2 linked regions of the Homo sapiens genome follow. The protein of the gene in region 2 purifies or fractionates together with the protein of the main gene of each other region. This does not show direct contact. Each region holds a gene or a part of one and is shown on either strand. Other genes may lie near its edges.

The links. The genes of interacting proteins can lie anywhere in the genome.
Region 1: the proteins of PRSS48 (region 2) and UBXN2B purify together in Homo sapiens (affinity purification with mass spectrometry; one large-scale study listed by BioGRID and IntAct). This does not show direct contact.

Annotation. Positions count from the first base shown.
Region 1 is NC_000008.11:58,431,861-58,435,360, reverse strand, and holds part of UBXN2B (UBX domain-containing protein 2B), read right to left. Parts: intron 2,202-3,500; coding exon 2,118-2,201; intron 967-2,117; coding exon 857-966; intron 504-856; coding exon of another isoform or gene 446-503; exon of another isoform or gene 258-445; intron 1-257. UniProt on the Homo sapiens protein: Adapter protein required for Golgi and endoplasmic reticulum biogenesis. Involved in Golgi and endoplasmic reticulum maintenance during interphase and in their reassembly at the end of mitosis.
Region 2 is NC_000004.12:151,288,732-151,293,141, reverse strand, and holds the end of PRSS48 (serine protease 48 isoform 1 precursor), read right to left. Parts: intron 2,025-4,410; coding exon 1,689-2,024; 3' UTR 1,280-1,688; downstream 1-1,279.

The DNA of each region.
Region 1 (3,500 bases), on a different chromosome or scaffold from region 2:
AATTCAAAATTCATGCTAATTAGTCTTCTAAAAGACGAATTTAACCTCCACTCCATGTCAGCCACTCATCCTGGACATATTTCAACATTTGGAAATGTTCCACCTTCTATTCCTTTATGGAGTATAACCCTGTATATATAACTCTGGTTATATACAGTAAAACTCTGATCCTTTCCTACAACTTAATTCCCCAGTTTATGCTCAACTTTATGTCTTTAGTTGCATATCTACTTAGAAATAACTCCACTTTCAGCTAGTTTAATCATAACACAGAAAAGCTTTTATTATCATAGCAAAATCACTTGATTCCTCATCCTTTAGCAAGAAGAGCTGGTAAGTTACAATGTTCTTTGGATGGGTGAGAGCACTGAATATCTGAGTTTACTTTCACAAATTATAACTTCAAACTAACCTTTTGAAATCTTCTGCCAGCAGTAATGCCACATTAAAAGATTTCTAACATAAGTTGCTGAATTTCAGGCATACATGCAATGAGAGTCACCCTGTCAACAGTAAGCAGGACAGTGGCTTAGTGGGTGGGCAGCTACATACTAATTAATTCACTGATTATCACATTAAGATGTTTCTTCTTGGAGCTGGGTTCATAGTTTCATCAGATTTTAAAATGGGCCAATGTCCAATGCCCCTGGCCCACAAAATTAAGAACCAGTGACTTACATACAGATAGCAGTATATCCTTTATAAACTTAAGAATACCTACACCCCCAGCAACCATTTATTTAATATATTCCAGGAACTACTTCTTGAAAACCCGTAGTGCACTAATAATGAGTAGTCTGTTAAGAAAATAAGTCCCACTCTACATAACAAATAGAATACAAATAATACATCTTACCCTCTCTTAACAGACTCCAGAAATTGAGCATTTGTTGGTTCATTGTAAGGTCTCAATTCTCCATCATCTAAACTGAAACCATTGCTCCACAGTTTAAGCAAAATCTGAACCTTTTGGGTATAGAAAAAAAAAAAATATATATATATATATATATATTCACATATACATAAGAATATATCTCCCCCAAATAATTTTAAGTTCCAAATGTGATATCCTAAAACGTATTTACTTAATTTAAAATAGGGAGTTATTTCTACTATTCTTTATTCATAGTGAAAGACATTAATGAAACCACATGTGTTTGTTTAGCTAGTTTGCATTCAGCTTAACAAACTGACAATGGCTGCAAATACCAAAGGTCCTGCAGGTGGACCCTGGCCTCGAAGTACAATTATTGGTGGATGGTTCACAAGAAAATGAAAGCAATGAGAAGAGCTGTACTCCATGATTCCCACTTCCTTCATTTTCCTTCATCTGCACCCATACTCTTCTTTGCTACAGAGCTTAAATATTCATCCTAAGGGGAACAGAATTTCCAGTGACCTTCCAAGAAACTATCAATGTCTAAAATAAAATTAAAACTCCAAAATTTCAAAAGGCAACAGAAACAAAGAATGACTTTAGGTGTTCTTCATTTACACCTCACCTCATTTTAGATTATGAAAATATACCATTTATAATAATAACTATATATTTGTTCATTTTTCTTTTTTTAATTGATTTTTTTATCTTAAAGATCCAGGGTCTTACTATGTTGCCCAGGGTGGTCTCGAACTCCTGGGCTCAAACAATCTGCCCACCTCAGTCTCCCAAAGTGCTAGGATTATAGGCGTGAGCCACTGTGCCTGGCCCAAGTTCATTTTTTTAAACACCTTTTTTTTTTTTTTTTTTTTAAAGAGATAGGGTCTGGCTATGTTTTCCGGGCTGGCCTTGAACTTCTGGGCTCAAGTGATCCTCCTACCTCAGCCTCTGGAGTAGTTGGGACTCCAGATGCATGTCACCACGCCTGGCTGCAAATTCATTTGGAAAATGAATCACACATTCTTTCAACAAATAGTTCCATATCTCTAAGTGCAAGGCATAATTGTGATACAAAACATAAAGATCGAGACTGAAAACTCACACATCATTGGTCCTTTTAACCCATGTTTTAAAAAGTAACAAAAATATATTTGTATTATCAATTCTTAATTTTAAAACCAACAGTTTTAGTAACTAGAAGCAAATATTTATACTTTTTCATTTTGATTATTGTACCTACATCTTGCAGCTGATTTTCTCCATAGATATATTCAGACCGCTTACAAAAAGAACTACCCAATCTGTATCCTCCACCTGTAAATGACTAAAATACATAGCAAGTGAGTTAAAATTCACAAAGGATTATTCAGCAAAAAGTTATTATGTGATATGTATTTTAAAACTAGATTAATTCTAATTAGCCAAAGTGGCTCATACTGGGGAGCCTTCAAGAACCAAAATTACCATAAGACTTGACTAAAAGATCATTTCAAACCATTGACGAATAATGAAATGAAAACCAAAATTTAAGTTTCATTACAGCAGTGGTTCTCAACAATGGATGTCAAAATTATCATAGAGGCTTTTTTAAAAAGACACGTTTCTAGGCATATCCCAAATTTATTGAACCATAATACCTGAAGCCATCAGGTAGTTTAGATAACCTCCCCAAATGATTCTGATGGAGAAATTCCAGGTTGAGAAATGCTACTTGTAAGAATGTATGAAATGATACCACAAAAGACACGTAACTGTTCGTCTTTAGTATATCAATATTGTGTCAGTTGGTAACAATTATAAAAGCTGTATAGAGGTGGCTCATGCTCGTAATCCCAGCACTTTGGGAGGCCGAGGCAGGCGGATCACGAGGTCAGGAGATCGAGACCACCCTGGCTAACATGGTGAAACCCCGTCTCTACTAAAAATACAAAAAATTAGCTGGGTGTGGTGGCGGGTGCCTGTAGTCCCAGCTACTCTGGAGGCTGAGGCAGGAGAATGGTGTGAACCCGGGAGGCGGAGCTTGCAGTCAGCCCAGATGGTGCCACTGCACTCCAGCCTGGGCAACAGAGCGAGACCCTGTCTCAAAAAAAAAAAAAAAAAAAAAAAAAGAAATTTAGAAAGGTACAAAAGCAATTCAATGGAGAAAGGAGTGCCTTTCAAGAAGTGATGCTGGAGCAACTGGACATCCATAAGCAAAACAATAAACTCTGGTGTCAACCTCACACCTTATATAAAAAATTCAAATAGATCATAGCTTTAAATGTAAAGCTGTAACATTTTTCCAGATAACAAAGGAGAAAATATTTGGGACCTACAGTTAAGTAAAAAGTTCTTAGACAATACAGCAAAAGCATGATCCATAAAAGAAAAAAAAGGAATAAATTGGACTTTATCCAAGTTTATAGCTTTTCCTTAGTGAAAAATCCTGCTGAGGATAAAAATATGAATGACATTCTGAGAGAAAATATTTACAAACCATGTATCTGACAAAGGACCCATACCTATTAAAATATACAAAGAATTCTCAAAACTCAACAGTAACAAAATAATCCAATTAGAGAATGGGAAAGTAATGAAGAGATATTTCCTTGAAAAGAATAATACAGATAATGGCAAGGAAGCA
Region 2 (4,410 bases):
ATATTTTATTTTATTTTATTTTGAGACAGAGTCTGGCTCTCTCGCCCAGGCTGGAGTGCAGTGATGGGATCTTGGCTCACTGCAACCTCCAACTCCTGAGTTCAAGTGATTCTCCTGCCTCAGCCTCCTGAGTAGCTGGGATTACAGGCACCCGCCACCATGCCTGGCTAATTTTTGTATTTTTGGTAGAGACAGGGTTTCACCATGTTGGTCAGGCTGGTCTTGAACTCCTGACCTTAAGTGATCCACCCTCCTTGGCCTCCCAAAGTGCTGGGATTACAGGTGTGAGCCACCTGTAGCTTAAAGCTTAAAGTAAGCCAAAATGTACTTACTTTAAGTCAACTTTCAGAAACAAAGTTTTTTTTATAAAAGGATCCGTATCTTGTAAAAGACACAGATGCAATAAAACTTAAGTTCATTTAAATGAGAAATAAAGGATGACTTAAAGAAGTATGAATGGAATTATACCAGAAAATCTGTGGTGAAGATAATGATTGTAATTGAGTTCAAAAGTTAGCTCTGAGTTTCTGGCAGCCTAGGTATAGAAGGGAATAGGATAGGTTGTGTGATTGTTTAACAAAGGAAGCATGGGATATAATGCTCTTTTCTATAATGTCCTTTGTTCCAAATATTTAAAGTGTTTTTTTATAGATGTGAAGTTAAACCACTTAGATAGGTCCAGATTGTTGAAACCCAAGACCTCAGCTCTTGAGATCATAGCATTAATCCATTGTTCGTAGTAGGTCACACTGGTATTTTAAAAAGTAAAAACTTAAGAAAAATATAGGGCTGAACTACATATATGCATTTCCTTCCTTCTTTTCTTTTCCTTTTTTTTTTTTAAAGACAGGGTCTTGCTCTGTTGCCCAGTCTGGAGTGCAGTGATGTGATCATAGCTCACTGCAGCCTCGAACTCCTGGTCTCAAGCTATCCTTCCACCACAGCTTCCCAAGTAGCTGAGACCACAGGCACATGCCACCATTCTTGGCTAATTTCTTATTTCTTTTGTAGAGACAGGGGCTGTGTTGCCCAGGCTGGTCTTCATCCCCTGGCCACAAGTGATCCTTGGCCTCCCAAAGTGTTGGGATTACAGGTGTGAGCCAACATGCCTGACCCATGTTTGCATCTCTTTTTTTTTCTTCTTTTTTTACTGCTCCTTATGGAACAGGGCTAGCTAATCTGTAGGCAGTGTGCTTGGAATTGGCTTTATATGAATTTTTTATTAGCCCTCTTGTTACAGTTGAGGAGTAAAGGGAGGGTTAGAAGGGAAGTTAAAGATAATAGAGAAGGTGAGAAATAATAGACTAAAATCCCATGATGCAACCCATGGGCACGAGGTAGACCCTTATTATATTTTCCTGTGTCATCACAGATACTTGCCTGCCTCTGTAGTAGCTATTTAATTTGTGTCTACAAATACTTATTCATAGAGGACATCTTCCTGCCTTGGAAGACACATTAGTCTTATAGCTATTTAATTTGTGTCTACAAATGCTTATTCATAGAGGACATCCTTCCTGTCTTGGAAGATGCATTAGTCAAGGACAAAGAATGTACAGAAGTGACAGTTTTATTTCTTAACTCTTCACATTCCAACCCCAAAACTTCCAAAATCAAAAACCTTAAAAACAAAATCATTTCAAATTGTAAATAAAGTCACCCAGGGTTAGCAGTGGCTCTCCTGTGAGTTATCTGCCCCTGGGACTAAATCTCCATGCATTCTCTTCCCAGCCCTGTATGCAAGCAACAGCTTCAGCTACAGTGCCTACTCTGTGTATAGTGTTAGGTCCAAAGGCACAGGAGGGACGCAGGAGAGCCAGAGAGAGTAGGACAATAGGGAACAAGAAGTCAGAGAAGTCTAGATTGTTGGCTCTTGAAATAGTGGCATTAATCCATTTTTGGTAGTAGATTACATTGGTGTAGACTCCAGGAAGAGATTTACCACATTCTAATCCCCAGCTTACTACTCCTGTCTGGATCCATACACCATCAATGTGACACGACAGAGGCCCTCCAGAATCACCCTAAGGAAGAAATGAAAGGTAATGAGCATAGTGAAAAGAGGCATAAAGAAGAGAGTAGTAATAAGGGGTGGAGAATTCTTTAAAACTGGGCCATGAGACCCATGGAGCTGTGGAACCCTGCAGGGGGCTGGACTAATCACTGCTTTAGGGAGATATCACAGGAATTTTAGAATCATAGAATTGAAATTGTCAGAGACCTTAGTGAAATATATTAGTAATTTCAAAATATTTGTCTGTGATAAAAAGAGAAATAAAACTAATGAGATGATTTTTTCACTAAAGATAAATTTATTCAAATGAATGAACTGCCTTAATTTCCTGTTCTTACTGCTCTTGTTTAGTGTTAAGTAATCCATTCTTACCTAAAATGATAGTGATAGTTGTTGGTAGTAGTCTTCTAGTCTTGTTCTCTTTCTTTTTTGTAACAGCTTTACTGTCATATAATTCACATACTACACAATTCAGTGGTTTTTAGTATATTTACAGTGTTGTACAACCATCACCACAACCCATTTTAGAACATTTTTATCACCCTAAAAAGAAACCTCATACCCATTTGTAATTATCCCCATTTCTTCCCAACCCTCCCAGCTAGGCCAACCAGTAGTCCACTCTCTGCCTCTATGGATTTGCCTATTTTAGACATTTCATATAAATGGAATCATGTAATATCTGACCTTTTGTGTCTGGCATGTTTCAGTTAGCACATTCTTTTCAAGGTTCCTTCATGTTGTATCAGTACTCCACTCCTTTTAGGGCTGAATAATATTCCATTGTATGGATGTACCACTTGGTGTTTCTGCATTCATCACCTAATGGACATTGTGATTGCTTCCATTATTTGGGCTATTATATTATAAATAATGCTTCTATGGCCCAGCATGATGGTTCGTGTCTGTAATCCTAGTGCCTTGAGAGGCCAAGGCAGGAGGATCAGGCCAGGCATTTGAGACCAACCTGGGCAACCTAGTGGAACCCTGTCTCTTCAAAACAAATAAATAAGTAAATAGCTGCTATGGTGGCATATGCCTGTCATCCCAACCACTCGGGAAGCTGAGGCAGAAGTATTGCTTGAGCCATGTTTACAATGAACTATGATCCTACCACTGCACTTCAACCTGGGTGACAGAGCAAGACCCTGTTTCTAAAATAATAATCATGCTGCTGTGAACACTTGTGTACCGGTTTTTTCTTTGTTTATTTAGAGATGGGGTCTCCCTGTTTTGCCCAGGCTGGTCTTGAACTCTTGGGCTGAAGCGATCCTTCTGCCACAGCCTTCTGAGTAGTTGAGATTACAGGTGGAAGCCACTGTGCCCAGCTCACGTGCAAGTTTTTGTATGGACATATTTTTATCTTTCTTGGTCATATACCTAGGAGTGGAATTTCTGGGTCATATGGTAATTCTATGTTTAACCTGTGAGGAACTGCCAAACAGTTTTTCAAAGAGGCTGCACCATTTTATATTACCACCAACAGTGTTAGAAGGCTCCAATTTCTCTACATTTGCATATCTTTATACCAGTTGGACATTTGTATATCTTTAGAAAAATATCTATTCAGATGCTTTGCTCTTTTAAAAACTGTGCTCTTTTTATGATCGAGTTACAAGTGTTCTTTTTTCTAGATACAGATCCCTTACATATATGATTTGCAAATATTTTCTTCCGTTTCATAGGCTACCTTTTTACTTTGTTGATGGTGTCCATTGAAGCATAAAAGTTCTGAATTTTGAAGAACTCTAATCTACTTTTTTTGTTGCTGCTTATGCTTTTGATAACATATCTAAGAAAATGTTGCCTAATCAAGGTCACAAAGACCTACCTATATGTTTTTTCCTAAAGGTGCTATAGTTTAGCTCTTATATTTAGGTCTTAGATCCATTTTGAGTTAATTTGTTATATGGCGAGGTCAGGGTCCAAGTTCATTCTTTTGCATGTGGTTGTCTACTTGTCCCAGCATCATTTGTTGAAATGACTATTATTTGTTCATTGAACTGATTCAATACCAATGTTTAAAAATAATTGACCATAAATATAAGGGTTTATTTCTGTACACTCAATCCTATTTCATTGATCTATAGATGTCTCTCCTTATGCTAGTACCACACTGGCTTGATTACTGTTAGTTTTGAAATATGAAAAATGTGAGTCCTTCAACTTGTTTCTTGTTTTTCAAGATTGTTTTGGGCCCCTTGAATTTCCATATGCAGTTTAGGATCAGCTTGCCAATTTCTGCAAAGAAACCAGCTGGGTTTTCATAGGGATTACATTGAATCTGTAGATCCATTTGGAGAATACTGCAATTTAAGCAATATTAACTTTATTCCTATTTTATTCTTTTTAAAACTATTATAAATGGAATATTGTTTTCTTAAATGTTTCCTTAG